Linked DNA regions of Homo sapiens: all the other regions are linked to region 3. Evidence: fine-mapped expression QTL. A gene starts in region 3. Each other region holds a variant in brackets. All regions are shown on one strand. Distances are from middle to middle.

Region 1 (8,572 bases), 31 kb after region 3:
AGTGAAAGGGCACCCCTAGCAGAGGAAACCAAAGATTAAAAAACACAGAGGTGGGAAAAATTATGACATAACTAGGAACAAAAATAGTTTTAAATGTCGGGAGTGGAAGATACACGTGGACAGGACCACTGCTAGTCCTTATGCTTCATTGTGAAAGTGAGCAAAAGATGCCTTTCTTCTTGGCAGATACAGATCCTCACTATAGGGTGACAGGTGGCAGCCAGAGCCCACGCTCACTTCAGCTCCCACATGCCCCTATTGTCCAGGTGTATTTGTGCAGGGCACCACCTGCACATCCATGAGTGTTAGGCCTGCATGTTGGGGAATGGGTGGTGCAGTGACTGGGAGGTAAGCAGGTGATAGCTCAGGAAGGAAGGTCCATGCTAAACTTGGGACTTCATCTCTTACCTGGATCATTTCAACAGCCCTTTGACTCTTATCTCTCTTCCCAGTCTCTCTTCTTGCAATTCATCCTATGCACTATAGCAAGAATGATTTTTCTAAAATGCAAGTATTGTTCTATTTAAGACTCTCCATAGATGGTGTTTTCCAGCTTGGCATGAGATCCTATGAAAATTGCTAGAAATATATCCCAGGGTTTTGTCCTTGTGCCCCCTTCTGTACTACAGCCAAAGACAGGCTGTTATGTGCAGTGGTTAAGAAGACTGCAGGGGCTTGAAAGACTGATCTTCTGGAACCAATTCCTCATGCTGTCATTTTCTAATGACAAGATATTGGAAAAGTTGTTTAATTTCTCTATCTATCTTTTCTCATCCACAAAATGGAGACAGTAATAGCAGCTACTTCATTGGGTTGATGAGAAGATTAAATTAGTTAATTCAAATAAAGTATTTAAAATAGTGCCTCACACATAACTAAAGTACTTAATAAATGTTAGCTATTACTGAGACAGCCAGGTGGGAAGGGCTCCCTGGCAAAACTCCAACTGGCCTATGCACTGAGAGGAGTGCACACTGGGATGGAGCCACAGACGTTCGTGCCATTTGCAGCAGGGAGGAGCCTGGCCTCTCCTCTCCTTGGGTGGAACCTGGAATTCAATCTGTGAGGTGGGAATCCTACACTAGCAGGAACTCTGGCCTTGAAGTGAGTTCCTGTTCCCCGTTTTTTCCTTTTTGCCCAATAAATCCCATTATTCTCACCCTTCAAATCATCTGCAAGCCTAATTTTTCATGGCCATGCGATAAGGACCTGGCTCTTAGCTAAACTAAGGAAAACGTCCCACAACATTATTACTGCTATTAGTAGCAGGCAAGATGAACACATAAGGAGGCATGACACTACATAGCAATGTTATTTTAGATCTAGCAGAAAATGCTGTCAGAGAAAAGAGCAGGGAGGAATTAGTTCTATCAGGGCAATCAGGAAAGGGCATAACATAAAAGTGCATAATGGAGCTAGAGTTTGAAGGAAGAATGAATTGGAGTTTTCTAGAAAAAGTCATACAAGGTAGTGAGGCAGCATGTGCTAAAGGGTTAAGGTACAAAAGTGCACAATGAATTCCCATAAAATAGGGATACTATTTATTCATTTGCAAATGTCAACCCTGCATATTTAATTTCCCCTTATAAATCCTGTCTGTATTTAGCCTCTTGCCTCTAAGGCAGAGCTGTGAAGATTACTGACCAGGGACTGAAGATAATGGGCATTGCACCACTGGGGCAGAGGCTGTCAGTCTCCTTGCCCACATCCCCTAGGTCTCAGCAGTGCTGTTTACTGTGACTTCCTGCTGAAAGCCCCTTCACCTCTCTGCTGAGGGCTTTCTCTGACTGTAGAAAAATGTTCGGTCCCCTGCATACAACAAGCTAGAAGTGCTTGGAGTTAACACACCTGGGAGCAGCCCTGAACCAGCGACAAAAAAGAGTTTGAGGATAAGCACTGTCAGCCCCTTGCCCTGAAGTGGGACAACTTGGAGCCTTGCTCTAAAATATCTTTCAGAGGGACAATGAGGCGCAGCTACCCACCGTGTTAATATGTCCATTAACACACCCTGCATAGCTCCCTTCCCTTCCCTGTCTCATTTCCCCATTTCCTTGGAGGTGTTTCCTGGGATCTCCTCTGAAATAAACCGCTGGCACCTGGTTTCATGTGCTGCTTCCGAGAAACCAAAGACAGTTTTTTAACAGGAAATCAGGCTTTGAAGTTGGGCTTTGTGGAGAGGGAAAAGGGCAAAGTCTGGAGGATTTTGACCATAAAGTCTTACCCACAGGGAGAGAAGCTCTCCTGTCTAGTATCAAGTCTTAGCCCTGCTGCTGGCCACAGGAAGTGGGTGCTGAAGGGAAGGTTTTCAGGCAGAGGGAACAGCCCATACAAAGAGATCTATTAGGTTATCTCCAGTTTTGAGGTTTTACAATCAAGATTTCTTTCATTTTGGCACTAAACACTACAAATAATGTCATGGGCCGCACCCTGTTCCAGGCACTAGGGGTACCATGGTGTTCAAGCTTTGGTGCCTTCTTAGCTCTCAGCTAGACTCAGTTCTCTGAGGAACAGGATGTTTCTCCTTTAACTCTTATGATACAGTAAAACAGCCAATGTGGTGGAAAGAAAAGAACCCTAAGCTGAAAGTCAGGAGACCTAAGCTCCATTCCCAGAGTGTGGGGGAGAGTCAGAGGCAAACAGTGAATCACTGCAGTGTAGGAAGCTCACAAGTCAGGGTCAGTCCTAGAAGGGACCTCAGTGACCAGCTAATCAGACCCCCATATTTCACAGAAAGAGACACTGGAGACTTCTAGAAGGGATGGGACTTGCTTAAGGCCATGCAAGGGTTCAGCAACAATTATCCAGGCCCTTCAAGATGAAAAGTGTTTCAGGGGTAGTGGGCAAGCCAAGAATGACATAGGAGGGGCTGGAGAAAAAGGCATGTTGAGGCCTATATTACCACCAAGCCCTGGGCAGGTCTACTGAAGGCACACACATCACACACACATTTACATTTTCGTTAATGTGTCTGTCACACTTACCATTTGAAGGGGTCTCCAAGGTCCTCTCATTCAGCCCTACTTCCCCTATCCCATGCCATTGTTCATGTCGCTCCCTTTGCCTGGAACACTTACCCTTGACCTTCTACCACCATTGCCTATCTCCTACTCACCTCAGGAATCATTTCCTACTAACTTTTCATGCTACTTCCTCCACTCACCCAAGTTGGTTTTGTGTCCTTCCTCTGAGCCTCCACAGGCCCCTGTGTTTCTACTATAGCAAGTTTCATGCAAGTGTTATAATTATTTTCATCTCTTCTTTGCCACAGACTGGTGCTCTTTGAAAGTAGGTGTGGTATTCATCTAGGGGTTGCATTGTTTTAGGACATTTAGTAAGCTCTTCATAAATGTTCAATGAATGAGTGAATGAATGCATGTTCAATTTACTCCATCATATTTTGGCTCTGGATTCCTTAGTTCTTAGCCACAATCAAGAGAAAGAATAATAGACAATATCTGTACAATCTGTACAGACTTTGGAGTTACAAAGTCCCGCCACGGGTGAGGTCTCATTAAATCCTACAACTCTTAGAGGTAGGTAGACAAGTTTCATCTCCGTTTCAGAAAGGCCAGTCAACACCCAAATGTGAGCTTCAGGACAGCCTGTAAAAATTAAAAAGCAAAGCAGCCTCTTTTGCCTCCAAGTTCCAACAACCCCCTTCACATTCAGAATGTCCTCAATGTATCTGAGGAATCTCAGATGGTAGCATTCACCATTTGTGCCTCAGTTGTTCCAGTCTCTAATGTGGACCTTCAGTCTCATTGACTGTAATGCTCCTGTGGCCCCTTTCCAAACCTCTCATCTTTGCCATGCTTTCTCATTCCAGCAGGACCTTGTTCTCAGGTTGATCTCTCCATCACTACCTGCCAATATGTACATATGAGATGTCACCCGGCTCTCTCTATATGTATATATTTCAGCAGGGTTCTTAGCCCCTCATTCAATTGCAAGATGATGTCAGGCCTTCTACCAAGTCACTTAAAAGGAAACTGCCTGTCCATTGGGTCAGTTGTCAGTCACCACAGTGAGAGCTGTAACCACCTCTCTGAAACCTTTCAGAGCCCCTACCCCAACTCACCTCCAGTCGGTGCATGGGGCAGTGGTTAAAAGTACTAGATAAGCAGGTAAAAGATTTGTATCCTAGCTTAATTTTGTCATTACTTGCTTTATGACCCTCCCTAGCCATCCCTCAGTTGCTTCTTCCTTAAAAGAGGAGAGGCGCAAAGGCTTGAATTAGATTAGATGAAATCTATGGACGCTTCTCATGTTGACATTGTGTGCTTCTAATTTGTTTCCACAGTTTGTCTCCTTGGGGCAGGAAGTGGATGGATTGGTTGGTGGTAGTGGAGGGTATACAGGGAAAGTCATATGTCAGCTTGAGAGGCAACAGCACAAATAGAAAAACATTGCAGAGTAGCTTTCAGAGAATTGAAATGGGTTTACCATGAGCAATAATAACATTAAGAAGCAGCTTTGAACTGTGAAAGGATGGTGTTTTAAAAAAAAATAGCACTCTTAAAAATATCATGAAGAAAATGTTTTCTAAAGTGTTTTTGTTATTGAGTTTGGACTACAAAAGCACTCAATTTAACATGAGAGACTCGTAACCATGTCCTTGGGTGTGAGAGTTCACATCAGTCAGAGGGGATGGAAACTGCTAGAAGCCCAGGCAAAGCAGTGTCAGTTATCCATTAACCTAGAATGAGTGTCTGTCTAGATTTCTAGCCTTAAGTAAGATTACTGTAATTTCTTTTTTTCTCCAGGGTGAAAATTTGGGAGAAATTTAAAGGTTATATATAAATGTAAATCCTACAGGCTTAAATTAAGGTAGTTA[C/T]AGTTTACTTTCATATTTCAAAATCAAATTTCAGCTTCAGCCCAGACTCACAAAGTAGAAATGTCAGACTTTTTACTGTGGTCTTATACAAAATCTACAACTTTCTCTTAAAGAGGAAAAAATAAAACCCAACCTTTATACCTTATCTCCTGAATAGACTACAAAAGCAGCATTGGTCTCTCTCTCAGTATGCCTTGTATGTAAATTTTAGGATTATAAACATTCAGAATGAGAAGGAACCTCAGAGTCAGCTAGTGCAGCTCTCCTCCCTCTTCATTCTGGGTCAGAATTTATCTGAACAGTCTCCCTGACAGGTAAACTTAGCCAGCCCTCTATTAGAACTTGCTAATTGGCAGGGTGGTCCAGAGATGGAGCAATGATGACCTCCTGAGAGCATTCATTACTGGACCACACTGCCAATTAGAAAGTTCTTCCTTTTGCTAGCTAAATTCTGCATCCCTGAAATTTCTAACCACTTAAGCAAACAAAGCAAACATCAGGTATTCCAAAATTATATTTCCACTATTTATGATTTCTTCTTAAAGGAATGATTCACAAACTGGGAACTTCCTATAGAATAGTAAATTTATCTGGGATGAGAAGTACATGAAGACTAGTAAGACTGATAATTTTTAAAATCCTCGCAATTATTTTATAAAGAGTGCTCCCACATTAACCATCTCATTTAGTTCTCAACACCAGTCTAGGACTGATGAATGAAGAAACAAACTCAGAGAGGTGAGGTAATGTGGCTGAACTGGTCTTTAAGCCCAGATTTCTGACTCCACATTCAACCCTACCCTCATTGTACTACTACTCACTCATGCAGCATTCTTCATGAATGTTACAGTTTCCAGGTTCATGACATAAATATGGAAAACAGCTGCAATCTACGCGGAGGTCAGTTGAATAAAAAAGGCAGGCAAGTCAGCAAATTATTGCAGAACAATTAAGCACTGAAATTCTAGGTGGGAACAAAATACTTCAGAAAAACAGAGAAAGGAGCAACAAATTACCTCGTGGAAATGGGGAAGGCTTCATGGGAAATAATGTTTAACTTAGATTTAGACATTTAACTCTACTTGGAGTGTAGAGATTTCTGTGTAGACAGACAAAATGATTATATGAGAGACAGAAGAAACTGCACAAAGCAAGACAAGTATGTAAAAGGCCATGGCATCTCTAAGGTAGAGTGAGGTACCTTTTGTGGCTGAAGCACAGGGTCTGTGAGAGTGTAACACAGATGACATTGGAGAAGAGGTAGAGGTGAGCCTAGGGACACTGGGTGCCACGGTATAGCCAAGAATGGGACAGAGTCAGGAAGGGTAAGGGCAACTAATATATACAAAGAGCATCTTATCTTTAGAAAGATCATTCCAGCAACAGTAAGAGAATAAATGATAGAGCCAGAGGCTGCTAAGGGATGGCAATTTTTGAGGTTGTTGCAGTATCACTGAAAAAAAGAAAGGAAAAATCCATCAGTAGATAAAGGGATAAACAAAATCTTATACATACACATAGAATACTATTCAGCCATGTAAAAAGGACAGCTAAATGATATCTCGTGGACACAAAGAGGGGAACAACACACACTGGGGCCTACTTGAGAGTGGAAAGTGGGAGGAGGGAGAGGATCAGAAAAAATAACAATTGGGTACTAAACTTAGTACCTGCATGATAAAACAATCTGTATAATAAACATTCGTGACACCAGTTTACCTGTGTAACAAAGCTGCACATGTATCCCTGAACCTCAAATAAAAGTTTTTTTAAAAAGGAATGAATTTTTGATATATACTATAACGTGAATGGACCTTGAAAACATTACATTTACTGAAATAAACCAGACAGAGAAAGGCAAATATTGAATGATTCTACTTACATGAGGTCCCCAGAATAGGCAAATTCAGAGAGAGAAAAAGCTGAATAGAGGGCAGGGGAAGAGTAGGCAAGGGGGAGAAATTGTTTAGTGGGTACAGAGTTTATGTTGAGGATGATGAAAAATTTGGGGTATAGATAGTGGTGATAGGTATACAGCATTATGAATGCTGTACATTATGTACATTATGAATGCTGTAACCAAATGTGTACATTTGGTTAAAATTATAAATGGTTAAAATTTGTATATTTTACAATGGTTAAAATTATAAATATTATGTTATGTACATTTTACCACTGTTTAAAAAAGGATTGATAAATTAATACTGTACTAAAGCAAACACATCAAAATGTTAATTGTAGAATAAAAAATTATGGAAGGAAGAGCATGGAAGATTAATTTGGCTAAAGAAAAGAATGTAAATGTTACAACTTTGACAACATAAACATGTAGTTGACAAAAGATAGAATTGAGAGGGCAAAGACAGAAGTGTTAATATCTGTCTTCTTACAAAGTAGGTAGTCAACAGATTGTTGAAAGTAGGTGGAGCAAGAAATAGAGGTTTAAGTCTGTTACTGAAAATTACATATGTAATCAATAAAATAACTAATAATAACATGAATATCAAACACTGGGAAAAGAAGGGAGGAAAGGTAGTCAACATTAAATTTTCATCTTTCATAGTAGAGATTGTTCTTGGCTTGTTGAAGTCAAGATAAAAGGTATTATATCTACATAATATCAAAAGGAGTTGTGGAGGAATCCACCAGAATACCTAGGCAGACCATTCACAGAAGGTCATCCCTGGGTACCTGCAGGTATGGGGTAAGAAAAGAGAATATCATAAGCTGTACTACACTATTTGCAACAACATACTATTTTAACTTTTAAAAGTTAGTACAATTACAAAAAGATAACCTCCTTTGAATGAGGGCCTGAATTAGGACAGTAGCCGTGAAGGAGGGGAGAGGACTGGAGGAGGGGAGAAGGCTGCTAAAAGGCATTCGTGAAGTTAAATCTGCAGGACTTACTGACTCTGGGGGGATGGAGAGAATTAAGAATAATTCCCAGGCTTTAGATCTAAAGAGTAGGTACTCTAATGTATTAAGATGTGGAAAGCAGGTTTGGTCTTGAAAGAAGAAATTATGAGTTCAGATTTGAGCACACCGACTTGGAGGTACCCATGGGATATCCCACTGGCATAGCCAGATAGTTTTTGTATCTGTGAATCTGGAGCTTGATAAACAGGTTAGGGCTGTACACCTTCCTTATAATTACTGCTTGGGAAAAACACTAACTCTTCATAGGCCTAGTATTAGATCTATGGTTTTGTGTTGGGAATGGTGGTGATGTCCAGTGGTTTAAGTCACTTTTGGAACAGTGAGCTACTTGAGACTTTATTTTGTGGAAGAAACTGGGAGAGTGAGAGGGTGGAGCCTCTTTGTCCAGCCATGTTTCTGCAAACTGGTTTGGATCATATATGTTATAATAGAACTTGGGGAGGCAAAGGCAGGGTGATGTGTCACCAGATTCCTCTTCAAGAAAAGGTCTGTTGCCCCAGCTGCTGGCAGTTCTGTGGGGAGGCAGCCCTCAATTGTCAGCATTTCTTTACCCACAGATCCACCTTGCCAGAGGTCCCACCCTTCCAAGAGCAGTCCACATCCAGTGAATAATAAGTATAAAAACATGGCCATTTCAGCCTAACATGAGTTTATTCCAATGGACCATTTTAGCTCCAGCGCTCCCTGTGAGTTTGAGCAAGGTTGCTATCAGGCCTGCATTGCAGCTAAAATTATCCCCTCTGCCCAATCCTTCCCTCCCACTGGTATAGATCCAAGGTCACTACATAAAAAGCATCC
Region 2 (8,572 bases), 49 kb before region 3:
GAATTTGTTTTCTCTTGCTTCTCTAGTTCTTTTAATTGTGGTGTTAGGGTATCTTTCCCACTTTCTCCTGTGGGCATTTAGTGCTATAAATTTCCCTCTAAACACTGCTTTAGCTGTGCCCCAGAGATTCTGGTACATTATGTCTTTGTACTCATCGGTTTCAAAGAACTTACTTATTTCTGCCTTAATTTTGTTATTTGTCCAGTAGTCATTCAGGAGCAGATTGTTCAGTTTCCATGTAGTTGTGCAGTTTTCAGTGAGTTTCTTTATCCTGAGTTCTAATTTGATTGCACTGTTGTCTGACAGATTGTTTGTTATCATTTCCATTCTTTTGCTTTTGCTGAGGAGTGCTTTACCTCCAATTATGTGGTCGATTTTAGAATAAATGTGATGTGGTGCTGAGAAGAATGTATATTCTGTTAATTTGGGATGGAGAGTTCTGTAGATGTCTATTAGGTCCATTTTGTCCAGAGCTGAGTTCAAGACCTGAATATCTTGTTAATTTTATGTCTCGTTGATATGTCTAATATTGACAGTGGGGTGTTAAAGTCTCCCATTATCATTAAGTCAAAGTCTACATCTCTTTGTAGTTCTCTAAGAACTTGCTTTATGAATCTGGGTGCTCCTGTTTTGGGTGCATATATATTTAGGATATTTGGCTTTTCTTGTTGCATTGATCCCTTTACCATTATGTAATGCCCTTCTTTGTCTTTTTTGATCTTTGTTGGTTTAAAGTCTGTTTTATCAGAGACTAAGATTGCACCCCTGCTTTTTTTGCTTTCCATTTGCTTGGTAAATATTCCTCCATCCCTTTATTTTGAGTCTATGTATGTCTTTGCACATGAGATGGGTCTCCTGAATACAGCACAATGAGGGTCTTGACTCTTTATCCAATTTGCCAGTCTGTGTCTTTTAACTGGGGCATTTAGCCCATTTACATTTAAGGTTAATATTGTTATGTGTGAATTTGATCCTGTCATTATGATGCTAACTGGTTACTTTGCCCATTAGTTGATGCAGTTTCTTCATAGTGTTGATGGTCTTTACAATTTGGTATGTTTTTGCAGTGGCTGGTACCAGTTTTTCCTTTCCATATTTAGTGCTTCCTTCAGGAGTTCTTGTAAGGCAGGCCTGGTGGTGACAAAATCTCTCAGCATTTGCTTGTCTGTAAAGGATTTTATTTCTCATTCACTTACGAAGCTTAGTTTGGCTGGATATGAAACTGGATATGAAATTCTGGGTTGAAGATTCTTTTCTTTAAGAATGTTGAATATTGGCCCACACTCTCTTCTAGCTTGTAGGGTTTCTGCACGGACATCCACTATTGGTCTGATGGGCTTCCCTTTGTGGGTAACCCGACCTTTCTCTCTGGCTGCACTTAACATTTTTTCCTTCATTTCAACCTTGGTGAATCTGACAATTACGTGTCTTGGGTTGTTCTTCTCGAGGAGTATCTTTGTGGTGTTCTCTGTATTTCCTGAATTTGAATGTTGGCCTGTCTTGCTAGGTTGGGATAATATCCTGAAGAGTGTTTTCCAACTTGGTTCCATTTTCCCCTTCACTTTCAGGTACACCAATCAAACATAGGTTTGTTCTTTTCACATAGTCCCATATTTCTTGGCAGCTTTGTTCATTCCTTTTCATTCTTTTGTCTCTAATCTTGTCTTCATGCTTTATTTCATTAAGTTGATCTTCAGTCTCTGATATAATTTCTTCCTCTTGATCGATTCGGCTATTAATACTTGTGTATGCTTCACAAAATTCTCGTGCTGTGTTTTTCAGCTCCATTAGGTCATTTCTGTTCTTCTCTAAACTGGCTATTCTATTTAGCAATTCCTTTAACTTTTTTTAAAGGTTGTGAGCTTCCTTGCATTGGGTTGGAACATGCTCCATTAGCTCGGAGGAGTTTGTTATTAAGAGGTTTTCTGGTTTTCGGAATTTTCAGCCTTTTTGCCCTGTTTTTTCCTTATCTTCATGGATTTATCTACCTTTGGTTTTGATATTGCTGACCTTCAGTTGGGGTTTTGGTGAGGAAGTCCTTTTTGTTGATGCTGATGCTATTCCTTTCTGTTTATTAGTTTTCCTTCTAACACTCAGGCCCCTCTGCTGCAGGTCTGCTGGAGTTTGCTGTCGGTCCACTCCAGACCCTGTTTGCCTGGATATCACCAGCAGAAGCTACAGAACAGCCAAGATTGCTGCCCTTTCCTTCCTCTGGAAGCTTTGTCTCACATGGGCACCCACCAGATGCCAGCCAGAGCTCTCCCATATGAGGTGTCTGTCAACCCCTTCTGGGAGGTGTCTCCCCATCAGGAGGCACAGGGGTCAGGTACCCACTTGAGGAGGCAATCTGTCCCTTAGCAGAGCTCAAGTGCTGTGCTTGGAGATCCACTTCTCTCCTCAGAGCCAGCAGTCAGGAATGTTTAAGTCTGCTGAAGCTGTGCCCACAGCCAACCTTCCCCCAGGTGCTCTGTTCCAGGGAGATGAGAGTTTTATCTATAAGCCCCTGACAGGGGCTGCTGCCTTTCTTTCAGAGATGTCCTGCCCAGAGAAGAAGAATCTAGAGAAGCAGTCTGGCTACAGCGGCTTTGTGGAGCTGCAGTGGGCTCTGCCCAGTTTGAAATTTCAGGCCGCTTTCTTTATACTGTGAGGGGAAAACCGTCTACTCAAGCCTCAGTAATGGTGGATGCCCTTCTCTGCACCAAGCTCGAGCATCCCAGGATGACTTCCGACTGCTGTGCTGGCAGCGAGAATTTCAAGCCAGTGGATCTTAGCTTGCTGGGCTCCATGGAGATGGGATCCACTGAGCTAGACCACTTGGCTCCCTGGCATCAGCCCCATTTCCAGGCAAGTGAATGGTTCTCTCTCCCTGGCATTCCAGGTGCCACTGGGTTATGAACAAAAACTCCTGCAGCTAGCTTGGTGTCTGCCCAAACAGCCGCCCAGTTTTGTGCTTGAAACCCAGGGCCCTGGTGGCGTAGGCACCTGAGGGAATCTCCTGGTCTATGGGTTGTGAAGACCATGGTAAAAAGGTAGTATCTCGGCTGGAAAGCACCGCTTCTCATGGCACAGTCCCTCATGGCTTCCCTTGGCTAGGGGAGGGAGTTCCCCAACCCCTTGCACTTCCCGGGTGAGGTGATGCCCCACCCTGCTTCAGCTTGCCCTCTGTGCACCCTCTGTCTAACCAGTCTCAATGACATGAGCTGGGTACCTCAGTTAGAAATGCAGAAATCACCTACCTTCTGCAATGATTTTGATGGGAGGTGCAGACGAGCTGTTCCTATTCAGTCATCTTGCCAGCCACACATGCCCATCTTCATTCCATTATTTCATTTACTCTAAACATACTTTCAGGCAGTTCTTAAAATTTACTCCATTTTAACTATAATGAATCCATGTATGAATGCATTTGTCTTTTTCTGGCTCTTTCATAGTGCTTCTTGAATTGGATGATTCTTGTCTTTTTTAAATTCTGGAAAATTCTCACACATTCTATGTTTAGTTTGACCTCCTTATTCTTCACAGTCTGTTATTATGGAAGTACTATGCTTAACACGTTGCGTCTCTCTGTTTTCTTCGATGTTACCAACAAGATGTCTTAAACTATCACCACCTGCCCCTACAAATGTACACAGGTTAGGATGTTTCATTTATCGTTTTCTGCTTGTGATACAACTTGGCTGTAACAGAAGTTCTTTCAGTGTTGAGGCTCAGAAACTCTCAAAGTTGATATTTAGTCCCTGACTATAATAAGATGTGGGAAGAGGGGACATTTCAAACTCTCCATGTTGGTCCCTTGCCCCACTCATTGAGGAAAGTGAAGTCTATTTTGCAAAATTAAGGCTGAGTCAGTGAAAGAGATCTAACATAACTGCCTCCGTCTTGCTTCTAAAACCCAAACTGTCCTTGTTCATTCCTGGGCATAGGCTGAGCTAACTTTGGGAGAAACTTATTTATAGTTTATAGTTTAAAACTAAGATGATGAGGTGGGGGGCAGCCCCCGCCCGGCCAGCCCCCCCGTCCGGGAGGTGGGGGGCAGCCCCCGACAGGCCAGCCGCTCCGTCCGGGAGGTGGGGGGCAGCCCCCACCCGGCCAGCCACCCCCTGCGGGAGGTGGGGGGCAGCCCCCGCCCGGCCGCTGCCCTGTCCCGGAGGTGGGGGG[C/T]GCCTCTGCCTGGCTGCCCCATCTGGGAAGTGGGGAGCCCCTCTGCCCGGCCGCCACCCAATCTGGGAGGTGTACCCAGCAGCTCATTGAGAATGGGCCATGATGACGATGGCAGTTTTGTCGAGTAGAAAGGGGGGAAATGTGGGGAGAAGACAGAGAGATCGGATTCTTGTTGTGTCTGTGTGGAAAGAGGTGGAAATGGGAGACTCCATTTTGTTCTGTACTAAGAAAAATTCTTCTGCCTTGGGATGCTGTTAATCTATAACCTTACCCCCAACCCCGTGCCCTCTGAAACATGTGCTGTGTCCACTAAGGGTTAAATGGATTAAGGGCGGTACAAGATGTGCTTTGTTAAACAGATGCTTGAAGGCAGCATACTCCTTAAGAGTCGTCACTACTCCCTAATCTCAAGTACCCAGGGACGCAAACACTGCGGAAGGCGGCAGGGCCCTCTGCCTAGGAAAACCAGAGACCTTTGTTCACATGTTTATCTGCTGACCTTCCCTCCACTATTGTCCTATGACCCTGCCAAATCCCTCTCTCCGAGAAACACCCAAGAATGATCAATAAATACTAAAAAAATTAAAAAACAAAAACAAAAAAAACTAAGATGATAACAGCCCTTTCCCAAAGCAGGCCTCCTTCTTGCCTGGGGACTAGATTGCCTCTGTAGGACTAACATTAGCTACAAGATTAGAAATTATGGCTAAAGGGCATTGCAGCTTGAGACTACAAGATTCTTACCCTCCCTAAACTGCTCCTAAGATCAGTGCTTGAGATATTTTGCAGACTCTGCAAATTTTAGTGCCTTAATCAATTAAACTCCAATTATATATTTAAAATATTGATTATTTTGAATGTGTTTTAAATGCTTATGTAACAGCAAAATATCACATATAGAGTGATTACAAGCTAGTTGTCATATTTACCTTTATGTCTATTCTAAAATAATAATAATAATGCAAGGTAAAATCATTTCATTGTTATTCTATACTAGTTTTTATATCTAACTAGATATATAATTTGATATATTCTTAAGGTTGTATAATACATATTTTATCACATTTTCCAGTTTACAACAATCTTAGAGAAAATAAAGAGAAAGAAAAAAATTTGAAAGGCATAATGGAAAATATCAGAATATTTTATGTTAAAATCAACAATACAGCACACATAACTTGATGGAACCATTTGAGATCCTGAAAATAAAAATACCTTTAAAGTACTTCAAAAAAGAAAATATGCTTATAAACTTTAAATAGAAAAACTATATTATAAAAAACAGCAGAGAATATTTCTGCAAGATATTAAATTAATTATATAAATACTACATTTTTAAAAGAGTTCTGTAATTGGCCCATGAGAAGAGAGTTCAATGGGGCAGAGTTTGGAAATGCAAATCCTTAGGGGAATTTGGTTTATGACAAAAATAACATCTCGGATATCTGAAGAAAGATGGATTACTTAATAAATAAAAAAACAACTAGGTATTTTTTGAAAAAATAATGTCAGATTTTAATCTCAATTATTATATAAGAAATCATTTTGCATGGGTTAGTTTCAAAATTTAAAATAAATGAAAGAGTCATTGTTATAATCTTGAAATGTGGTCTGGAAAACTCTTACTAAGAAAACGTAGGACTTGGACACTGTGAAAAGAAGAAACTGTTGAATTGTACAACATAAAAATAAGTCACTAAATTGAATTTCAAACTGGTCAAGAATGTATAGAAAAGGTATAACAGATCAAACACTAATTCATTATATTCAAATTTTGGTTCATTAAAATTAAAAATGTCTGCTCTGCAAAAGCTTTTGTTAAGAGAAAAAAAAGACAAGCCACAGACTAAAAAAAAATTGCAAAAGATAGCTGATGAAGGATTCTATGCAGAATATACAAATTAACAGTGTAAAAACAAACCGCACAATTAAAAATAGACAAAATATCTGAACAGATACTTTATTAAAGAAGATAGATGACAAATAAAGATGTTAAAATGCTCAAAATCATATATCATTTAGGAATTGCAAATTCAAACAATGAGATACTACCCTAAACCTATTATAAGTATGGCTGAAATCAAAAATACAAACAAGGACGTGAAGAACAGGAACTCTCATTCATTGCTGGTGGGAGTGCAAAATGGTATAGGAACTTTGGAAGACAGTTTGACATTCTTGCAAAGCTGAATATAAGCTTACTATATAATCTAGAAATTGTGCTTCTAAGTATAACCCAAATTAGTTGAAAACTTGATACAAATGCTTAAAGAGTCTTTTCTAATACTTGTTAAAATTGGAAGCAGTCAAGATGTGCTTCAGTAAGTGAATGAATAAACAAACTATGATAAGTCCATACAATGAACTATTACTCAGTGATAGAAAGAAATGAGTTATGAAGCCATTAAAAGACATGTAGGAAGATTAAATACATATTACTAAGTGAAATAAGTCAGTTTGAAAAGGGCACAGACTGTATGAATCCAACCGTATGAAATTCTGAGTCAGACCTATAGAGACAGTAAAAAGAGCAGTAATTGGCCAGGCTTCAGGGGAAGGGAGGGATGAACAGGTGAAGCACAGGACATTTTTATGATGGTGAAATTATATCCTATGATACTATAACAGTGGATACATAGCATAATACATTTATATAATGAATTTGAGAATTTCAGAGGCTTATCAAGGAAAAAGATAAGCCCACAGGTGGCAGTAGCACACAAAGCTTCTACTTGGACGCTACTTGGACAGGGTTGCAAAAAGAACAGTCCTCACAGCATAAGGCCTTATAGAAGCACAGGGGACCACCATCCAGAACGCAGGAGGACAAAGGAGCTCCCAAGGATGGGAAGGGAGATGCTGCATGTCTAGATAACATCACTTCACAGCATGGTAGGAAGCTGCTGGGTCAGAGGGCTCTGAAGGGCAGCAGCCTGCAGTTTATGTAACTACAAGATTTTTCTTATCTATGGCCGGCAGATGTTGGGTGCAGTTTCCCAAGGTGTACAAAGCAGGAAGACATAAAATGGCAAAAAAAATCTGCCTGTTGGAGATATATTTACAACAACTGGATGCGAAAACATTTCAGTTTGGCACTGTGGGCTTTTGAGCTAATGAGTCTCAGCCTGATTTAAGAAGTAAGCAACAAAGGGCCAATATGCAAAGGCCATCTCTGGCTCATTTATATAACAATTTGTTAAATCCTAGAGAATGGTACAACACAGAGTGTCTAATGTAAACTTGGACTTTTGTTAATAATAATCTATCAATATTGGTTCATTAATTTCAATAAATGTATCACACAAATGCAAGAGGTTATCAAAAGGGGAAACTCTGTGGGAGGGGGGCAGGTAGGGAAGAGGGAGTGGGGCTATGTGGGAACTTTATATACCTTCTGCACAATTTTTCTGTGAACCTAAAACTTCTATAGAAAATAAAGTCTATAAAAATGTTAAAAGTCAATGAGGAGAAAAAGGAGAGCGAAATAAATGGAAACTTGGGGGAAATTTTGTAATTCACAAAATAAAATCAAAAGTCAAAACCAAATAATTCTGCACATCCAAAATATAACTAACAAGTCCATTGAATTATAAACTGGTCAGAAACACATGCAACAGTTATAACAGATCAAAAAGAGATTTGTGCAAGTTTAATGCAAAGGAAATGTGGAGTAAGGCATTAAGTAGGCAGTTTAGAGAAAATGAATACAATTTTTTGAGAGGAAAGAAGGCCACCCTAACTCAATAAACAAGTAAAATATTATCACTGTGAGTTTCTATTTTTCATCTGTAAATTTGGAAAATACAAAAAACCCTGAAACCTGTAACACCCACCTGACAAACTCACATATGCTGTTGGTGGACATGTACACTGGTAACTATTTCAGAATATTTTTGATATCGTAATAAAAACAGCACATAGCCTTTGACAAAATAGTTCTATTCATAGAAATATTTCCTACATTCTTACTTACAGATATGCTCAAAACATATGTACAAGGGTGTTTGTGGCAGCTTTCGTTTTATTAGCCAAAGACTGGACACTACCCAACTACACATTGGTAAGATTTGTACCATGTAACAAGTAGCTTTTGCCAGAAATTTTAAATCTTGTATGCCACTTATTGGTTCAGGATTTTAATGTATATGTCTCTAAATAAACTATATTTATGTCTGCTTTGCATTGATCCCCTTCCACTGCAAATTTTCATCACCTATCGAGGTCCCACCAGCCTATTGTGTCTTTGCTTATCTTACTGTACAGATAACTCACATGGATTCCAATATGGACCACAATTTGGACAGCTTCTTCATTGTATAAGATATAAGTAAATCATGTCACCTCAATACAAATATTGAGTTCTTGAGGGCAAATGTTAGGTCTTCTTCATTTGTTGTTGTTTTTTTTTTTCTCC
Region 3 (8,497 bases):
TATCTCCAAGTCCAACAACATGAAGATTTTACCCTATGTTTTCTTCTAAGAGCTTTATTTTCTTAGCTCTTGCATTTAAGTCTTCAATCCATCTTGAGTTAATTTTCATATATGGTGCAATGTAAGGGTCCAACTTCTTTCTTTGGCATAGGAATATTCCATTTTCTCAGCATCATTTGTTGAAAATGCTGTCATTTTTCCACTGAGTGGTCTTCACACTCTTGTCAAGAATCATTTGACTGTAACTGTGAGACTTTATTTCTGGGCTCTCTGTTCTATTCCATTGGTTTATATGATTGTCTTTATGCCACTACCACACTGCTTTCACTACTGTAGCTTTGTAGTGAGTTTTGAAATCAGGATGCATGAAACCTCCAACTTTGTTCTTCTTATGTGTAGTATGTCTTTGTGCCTCAGTGGCAACTTCCATTTATTGGCCTGTTATATTTCTATACTTTTTTATGCATGGCTGAAACCATTCCCCTTCCCATAAAGCTTTCTCAGTCTCTCCAACAAAGGACTTCATTGATCCTTCCTCTGGGCTATCCAGCTAAAAGGAAGAAAGGGGTGGACAAAAGTGACCTATTTTGTGTCAAAAGCACCTGTCTTTTGACTGTCTGTATTCCCCACAAGGCATGAACAACTAAAGACATGTGTGCTCCCTGAACAGGGTCAGGGATAGGACAGGCCTCACTTCATGTAGGACTGACAGCATGAGGACATCCTTCACTCTCGGAAGCTCTCTGAGAGAATATTCTGGATAATTGAGGCCTCAGCTTTGAATGCCAACACCTGCCTAAAATGTTTGACCATTTTGCATGAAACTCTTCCTGCCTGGGTTTCATACTCCATGCCTTCTAAATAGAAAACTCATAATGACCACAGTCACCTTTCCTTGATGACTCTGGGTCATCCGTATGTGTGTGAATCTTGGCTGCTACTCAAGAATGCCCTTTGTTGAGAGTTGATCTACCCAGTTTTATAGGTCTGTTTGCCCCGATTTAGTCATCTTTTACATTGTCTTTCCTGGTCTTTCCAGGTTTAATGACCTCTCATGCACCATCAACCCATCAGCTGCCATTCTCCTTGCTGTCCCTGTGTAGCTTTGCCCCCTCTCTTCTAATTTGTTGTGAGTTGGGATATGAATAACAAGACTCTGGCTAAAACAAAAATAAACAGTCTCTGAGTGGGGTCACAAGGCTCACTGATAAGTCAAAGATTTAGGTTTTGGGCATGAGTTTTAGAATGTCTATTCTGGCTGTTTCAAAGCCTTTTTTGCTCCCTTCCTCATGCTCTGTTGGTCTCTGGGCTGCTAATGTGCCTGGTTAGCTTACAGATAAGTCTTAGATGCATTCGAGGAGAGGCTACTATAAACCCAAACCTGCTAGTTTTGGATTAGGTAAGTGTGCAGGGTTTGGGGGTCAGCCTCATGTATCTGTGAGGTAGATGGGAAGACAGAGCATGCAGGCAGCAGAACACTGTCCTAGTCCATCCCTACTGCTACAGCAAAACACCTAAGACCAGGTAATTTATAAAGTACAGGAATTTATTTCTCACAATTCTGGAGGCTGGAAGTCCAAGATCAAAGCCCCAGCAGGTTTGGTGTCTGGTGAGGGCCCAGTCTATGCCTCCAAGACGGCACCTTGTGGCTGTGTCCTCACATGGCAGAAGGTAAAAAGGCAAAAGGGCCTGGCTAGTTCCCTTAGCCCTTTTATAAGGTACTGATCCCACCCATGAGGGAGAAGCCCTCACGGGCTAATCACTCCTAAAGGCCCTACCTCTTAGTACTGTTGCATTGGGGATTCAGTTTCAACATGAATTTTGGAAGCAACACAAGCATCCAAACTATAGCAAACCCCAAGGGCTGGGTGAGGGGGCTCCTTGTGGGGAGCATAGAAAGAAGTACAAGACTCAGCTGTCTTCTCCCTGCGACATTCCTTTTCCCATCTCTGGAAGAGTCATCCGGATCCAGAGCCCTCACTATGGTGTGCTCAGAGGCCTAAGCTCAGACCACTCCTTCCCTGCTCCCTGATTAACACCCAGAGATCTGCCAGCCTCATTCCCCACTGTCCCTGTATCCAGCTCACCCCCAGGGACCACTGGGCACCTGGTCCATCACATTTTCCTGATGTTTCTAATGCTGCCCCTCCTGCATCCCTGTTCGTCTGATAAACTTGCCTTTAAACGTGTATATGAAGGACTCTTCCTCTGGTATCTAATCCTAACAGGTGCTAGATCCCACAGAGCCCTGTCCAGCTGGGGACTATGCTGACCTCTCTCCCAGATCAATATCCCTCTCCTCGGGGCTCAGCCTGGCCAGTGCCTGATGTTCTGGGATAGGAGAACTGGGGAGAGAAGGCCTAGGACCCTGCCTCTCACTTTTCTTTCCACCAAAAGGGGAAAAAAGAGGATCTGGTCCTCACACCCAGCCTTGGGATACTTATAAGATGCTGGGGATAGGGTGTGGGACAGGGCCAGTGAGAGCTGGGGATGGGGTGTGGGACAGGGCCAGTGAGATCTGTTTTCCTGCTGCTCCAGTCTGGGCCCTACAGCAGATGCATGCAGAGTAATATTTGTAAGACTGAAATATTCCAAATGCAGCTACTTTGGAAGGACCATGTGAGCAGATATCTAAGTGCGTGGCATCTGGGCCCCTTGGCTAGATGGTGGTCGATGTTGGTTTCTTTGTGTTAACCCCAAGAACATTCAGTAGCTCAGGGTTTGCAGAGGTTCTCAGGAGCACATCTTAGCCTCATTGGTGGTGTGAGGCAGGCAGGGCACAGGTCACACTGATGAGGACACCCGGGCCCAGAGACATTTAGCAACCTGCCCAAGGGCATCTGTAGTTCAGTGAGAGGTGGAGCTGGGACTGAAATCTAGGCTGCCTGAGTCCCAGAGATGGTCTTCCCTGGACCCAGGGAGCACTGTATCTTTTTCAGGGAAGGCCTCCTGACCACAACCATTTCATCTGTCACAGTACAGAATAGGAAGTATGGGTCAGGCATCAGAAGATGTGAATTCTGGCTCTGCCTTTTCAGAGATGGCCCTGCCTAGTTCCTTGGAATAAATGATGATGTCTTCCCCAGCCTCAGTTTCCTACACTATATAAAAAGAGAAAGCAACATCTAGGTAGGTTGGAATGGGAGTACATGAGGTGGTGGCCACTTTGCTAGGGTCACAGTAGACTCCTCACCTCCTTCCCCTTGTCTTCCTCTCACTAGGTAAAAGACAATTGTATTGAACTCTTAAGAAAATTGGACTCCAGTCCCGGCTCCACCTTTACTTCCCTGGGCCTTGGTTTTCCCACCACACAGGAGTTTGAACACTTTGATTTCTGAAGTCCTTCCCACCTCTGGGGTTCCAATATTCTGCTCCTTTTCTCCTCTTCCTCCTCCCCCTCCTTTCTCCTCCTGCTCATCTGGGGTTAGGGAGATTGCGTGTATGTGTGTGCCTGTGTGTACACATGCATGTATGTGTGTGCACGTAGTGGCAGCAAGGAAGAGGAAGGAAGGAGTCCTGCAGGGGTTGGTGGTGGCAGTTGGGAGAAAAGGAGGCAGGACTGTATGTGCCAGCAGGGCTCAGAGTTTTCTCACCAACTAATGGTGCTTGGGGCAGTTTAATCATTAAAGGAAAGGAATGAAGCCAGGAGCGCCTCAAAGTCCAGCCTGCTGTTGACCAACACTAACAGATGAGCAAGGAGCTGGCAGCAATGGGGCCTGGAGCTTCAGGGGACGGGGTCAGGACTGAGACAGCTCCACACATAGCACTGGACTCCAGAGTTGGTCTGCACGCCTACGACATCAGCGTGGTGGTCATCTACTTTGTCTTCGTCATTGCTGTGGGGATCTGGGTAAGTGGGCCCTGAGGCTGGGGCTAGCAGGGGAGGTAGTAGTGGTCTCTCAGCTTGGGTGGGGCTGTGGAGCTGGGGCAGGGCTAGGCAGAAAGAAGCAGATCATAGAACCATGTGGCTGAGAAGGAAGGGCCTTCAGGAATCAGGCTCCTGATCTCCTCATTTTTAGAAGGGCAGAGAGGGGTGTGGCTGGTCTGAGGTCACACAGAGAGTCAGAGGCAGACCAGGCCCCCGACTCCTGACTCCTCTCTGAGCACCTGCTGCCTTTGGCCCCAACCATCCCTGGTTGCCCTGAGCCTCACTCCTTCCTTCTTCCCACCCCAAGGCCCCCAACTCTGAGAACTCTTGACCCCTGGCCCTACCTCAGTCCTGCATTCGTTAGCATCTTGGCTAAGGTGATTTCTAAATGAGAAGGGGCTCATGTGCTCTCAGGGAAGTGTGCCAGGCTTATTCCAAGGTTCCTCTGTTCTCCATTGTTCCCAGGAGCCTCAGTGCTAGAGGCAGGGGCCAGGCTTTGGGGTCAGGGAAACCTGAGTTCAGGTCCCAGCTGCAACAATGAGAGCCTCATGTCCCTGGGAACATATGAGGCCTATCAGCTTTCTCAGGTGAACAATGAGAATAAGGACTATGCTGTGATCATTCAGCAACAGGACATACTGCAGCACCTGGCACGGTGCCTGGTGCCCGATCAGCAGGCAATAAATGGCTGCTATTATCACCACGCATTCCACAGAAGTGTGAGCACCTTTAGACTCTGCTGTGATTCAAGTCCCAGATGGTCACTTCCTAGGCTGTGGCCAGGTCAGAGACCCTCTCTGAGCCTCAGTTTCCTCATCTATAAAGGGGGGTGAACAGTCCCTGCCTTCTAGTGCTGGTGTGAGGAAGAATTGGGCTAACAGATGGTCACTGGCTCCTGGAAGTGGCCAGCCGAGAAAAGCACCAACTCCTCTGTGACTTTGGACAAATTGCTTCCAATGTTGGGCCTCCATTTTCACATCTGTAAAATGGATCTGTTTTGCTCGTATGGCCTCCAAGAGGATCAGAGCTGACAAGGAAAATACAAGCAAAAGCTTAACAAGCACAAGGCCCCACACATATTTATCACTCCCTCGTGACTGATTATTTTCCCTTAGGGGAAAGTCAGAGAACTGTTGGCTTTTGCATCTGAATAGCTGCTTCAAGTTCATCCTTCCCTACCCACTGCCCTGCCCTCACCCTGTATCTCCAGAGAATATTCCAACAGGCTGCTAACTGACCACCTACTGGTGTAAGACAGGGAGGTCCTGGATGGGGCTCAGTGGCGTGATCTGATTTCAACCCAGGGCAAGGGAAACTCCAAAACAGTACCCATAACTCTACTCAGGGCTCAAAGTCTCACAGTCAAACTGCAGCCCTCTCTGTCCTCCCGCCTCCAGTGTGGGAGCTCAGCTGGGAGCAGGGAGGGGATCAGCTCAGAGAAAGGGTGAGCACTACACATCTAAGGAGGTGATAACAAATCATACTCTGAAAGCGCACTTTGGGGAGGGAAGGATAAGGGGACAAGAGTGCACAATCAATGGCTTCACACACGTGACATCCGTTACCTCCTTTGCTCTTCGCACTGGCCCTGGGAGATGAATGGCGAGGCTCACAGAGAAAGTGACTCTGCCAAGATACATCGCTTAGAAACTGTGGAACCAGCCTCAGGCAGCTCTCTTCTGCCTCAGTTTTCACCCTCTGTGTCCCCACAGTGCCTGCACCGAGGGGAAGGAAATCTGCGGGGAGGGGGCAGGGCAGAGGTTCAGAGAGTCTTGAGAAATCCTCATCTCATCTATTTCCTTTCCAGTCGTCCATCCGTGCAAGTCGAGGGACCATTGGCGGCTATTTCCTGGCCGGGAGGTCCATGAGCTGGTGGCCAGTGAGTTGACCCTTCTCAACCACCCCTAGTGCAGAGGCTCCCAACTTTCTTCCTCCCCACTATCCAAGCACTTGTCCCATCTTCTCACACCTGGACCAAGGCAAAGACCTCCCCGTTGTGTTTCCTGACTCTGGGCCCCTTCTCTCCCGCCCAAACCCGCCCCGCAACCTGAGTGGTCCTGCTAGCACGCACCTTGGACAAACATCCCCTGGCCCCTCCTAGGTGTGGCCCTACATCTGGCACTTGACTTGCAGTGATGAATCTGGAATGTCCCTGTCCTAGAGAAGCTCAGAGCTGAGTGGGGCAGATAGATTCATAAACATCATGCGCACTGCTGAGCCAGAGGGAAGCAGGGGGCACTCACCAGAGCTTGGAAGCCCCTGACCACCAGACAGTGGAGTCAGCTAGGGTTAGGAAAGATTTTGGGGGGAAGGTGACACATAAGCTTAATATTGAAGAACAGTTAAGTTAAGGGAATCACAGAGGTAAAATCCCCAGCAATCTCAGGGAATCGATCCCCAAAACTTTGTGAGCCACAGTTTCTCCCATCAAGCCACACCACATTTCTAAGTTAGGGGAATCACAGAGGTAAAATCCCCAAAAACCTCAGGGAATCGATCCCCAAACCTTCGTGAGCCACAATTTCTCCCATCAAGCCACCTCACATTTCTATTGGTCCTCAAAATTAACTTCCTCCTCCTGGAATGGGATGGAGGGAGGAAAGCCCTGCCTCAAAAATTACCAGTAGAGTCATCAGCCCCAGTGGTAGCTGAAGCAGTATACACACCCAGGCATGCAAAACTCACACACGGCATGTGTGCATACCCACTCCCACATGCACACTCTCACACACTGACACACAACACTCACACTCACATACAAAGGCACCCACACATGTTCATACATGCCCGCACTCATACATGCTTGCAAACTCATGCACACAATCATACTCCTATTCTCACACTCACACCTTCTCTCACGCACTCACACTCTCACTCTCATACACACTGTCACAATCACATACACTCACATGCAGTCTCACACTCATGCTCCTTTACATACTTACACGTGCACACTCAGACTCACACATTCATGCGCACTCACACCACCAGCCATCTTCACGCCTCTCCCCACCCTTCTCCTTCTCACCACCTTCCCCACTCTCTAGTGGTCACAGACTCATTAAAGAGTAGCAGAAACACAGGAGGCCTCCAGGGCTCTCTGGAAGGTTTAGGTATCTGGGACAGGAAGAAGTAGGAGCAGGGAGCTCTTGTCTGTCCAGCATGACAGAATCCCCAGGGATGGCGGGGAGCTGGGCCTTGCAGCTCAGGAACAGTGGCGGGGTCACTGGTGCTACAGCCACCTTCTCATCAGGAAAAAGGAAAAACCCTTCAAAATGGTTCTTTTCAGCTAGTGCCCCCCAAATCACAGCCCTGGAAATGAAGGAAAGGAGGAGAAAGAAGCAGGACAGAGCAGGTTCCTCTGACCACTTCAGGAGAAGCCCAGGGGCCCTGCTGATTGTCTGGTCAACCCACAGAGAGCCGAGCTCTGGCCCAACGATTAGTGTGAGGAACCTGAGGCCTCCAAACAAGAGGGAGGCCTTGGCAGGCACTCCCAGGTTCCCACTGCGCCCCAAACACAGAGCAGGCACCCAGTGGGAAAGAGAGGATGTGCTCCCCATCCTCTGGTGGGCCAGGCTGTGAGCTGTGCCTCCTGCACCTGAGACCTGGGTCCTGCCTGAGGCCAGAGTAAGAACCAGCTCTGGGTAGGGAAAGCTCAGTCCCACCAGCACTGCTGGAGTGTTTGTCTGGGCATCTGCCCTGCCCTGAGTCTGTGCCCCATGAACAGTGTGGGGCTTGGGAGGCTGAGAGCAGAAGGTGCAGTCGCCCGTCCTCTTCCAGAGAGGTCTGCATGGTCCTCCTCCCCATGCCTCCCCTGCTGATCTTGTTGATGTCTCCTGGGTTAGGAGCAGGAGAAGTGAGGTTAAAAACCCTGGGCTGGGTTGGGGTGGAGGTGCCTCACTGCTCCAAGAACTGCCTGGGGGAGGCTTCTTCCCCTGAAGTAGGAGGCCTTGGTGTTCTTTGCTCTGACTGGGTGGTTCAGCCCAGCCCTACCAGCACCCTGGGACCGCCTGAGAGAGGAAGAGTGAGTGTGTGTGTGAGTGCCTGTGTGAATTTGTTTCCATGTGTGAGTATGTATGCATGTGTGAATGTGGGCACTGTGTGTGTGCATGAGTGTGCTTGTGTGTGTGTGCTTTGCGAATGTATGTGCACGTGTGTGCATACCTGTGCGTGTGAGGGCATATGAGGACATGTGCATGTGTGTGAGTGTATGTGTGCGACGGTGCAAGTGCATGAGTGTGTGTGTCAGAGTGTGTGTGCGTGTGTGTGTGTACTGTGCCTGTGTGTGAGTGCATGTGTGTGTGCATGTGTGAGTGTGTGTGTACTGTGCCTGTGTGTGAGTGCATGTGTGTCAGAGTGTGTGTGTGTATGTGTGAGAGTGTGTGTGTACTGTGCCTGTGTGGGCGTGAGTGCATGTGTGTGTCAGAGTGTGTGTGTACTGTGCCTGTGTGTGATTGCATGTGTGAGAGTGTGTGTGTACTGTGCCTGTGTGGGCGTGAGTGCATGTGTGTCAGAGTGTGTGTGTGTGTATGTGTGAGAGAGTGTGTGTACTGTGCCTGTGTGGGCGTGAGTGCATGTGTGTGTCAGAGTGTGTGTAATTGCATGAGTGTGTGTGTACTGTGCCTGTGT

Alleles and levels. Alleles are on the strand shown, and positions count from the first base shown. SD is a standard deviation of normalised expression in the study named. Not every link is listed here.
For the expression in substantia nigra of the gene that starts at base 3,668 in region 3, allele T in region 1 goes with a higher level than allele C (large effect, 0.78 SD a copy in GTEx).

What was found.
Region 1: its variant is fine-mapped to the expression of SLC5A9 in substantia nigra (GTEx, PIP 0.99). The same link has a PIP of 0.9 or more in spleen.
Region 2: its variant is fine-mapped to the expression of SLC5A9 in lung (TOPMed, PIP 0.97).

Annotation. Positions count from the first base shown.
Region 1 is chr1:48,249,795-48,258,366 of GRCh38, forward strand. No RefSeq gene overlaps it. Among named protein-coding and RNA genes, the nearest start is that of SLC5A9, 31 kb to the left of the region's middle. The variant C/T (reference allele first, on the strand shown) is at 4,835.
Region 2 is chr1:48,170,376-48,178,947 of GRCh38, forward strand. It overlaps LINC02794 (long intergenic non-protein coding RNA 2794), which reads left to right. Exons shown (of 15, transcript XR_007066073.1): 13 at 8,134-8,218. It also overlaps the pseudogene SKINT1L. Among named protein-coding and RNA genes, the nearest start is that of SLC5A9, 48 kb to the right of the region's middle. The variant C/T (reference allele first, on the strand shown) is at 4,159.
Region 3 is chr1:48,219,049-48,227,545 of GRCh38, forward strand. It overlaps SLC5A9 (solute carrier family 5 member 9), which reads left to right and starts at 3,668. Exons shown (of 14, transcript NM_001011547.3): 1 at 3,668-3,850; 2 at 5,676-5,747. The coding sequence starts at 3,689.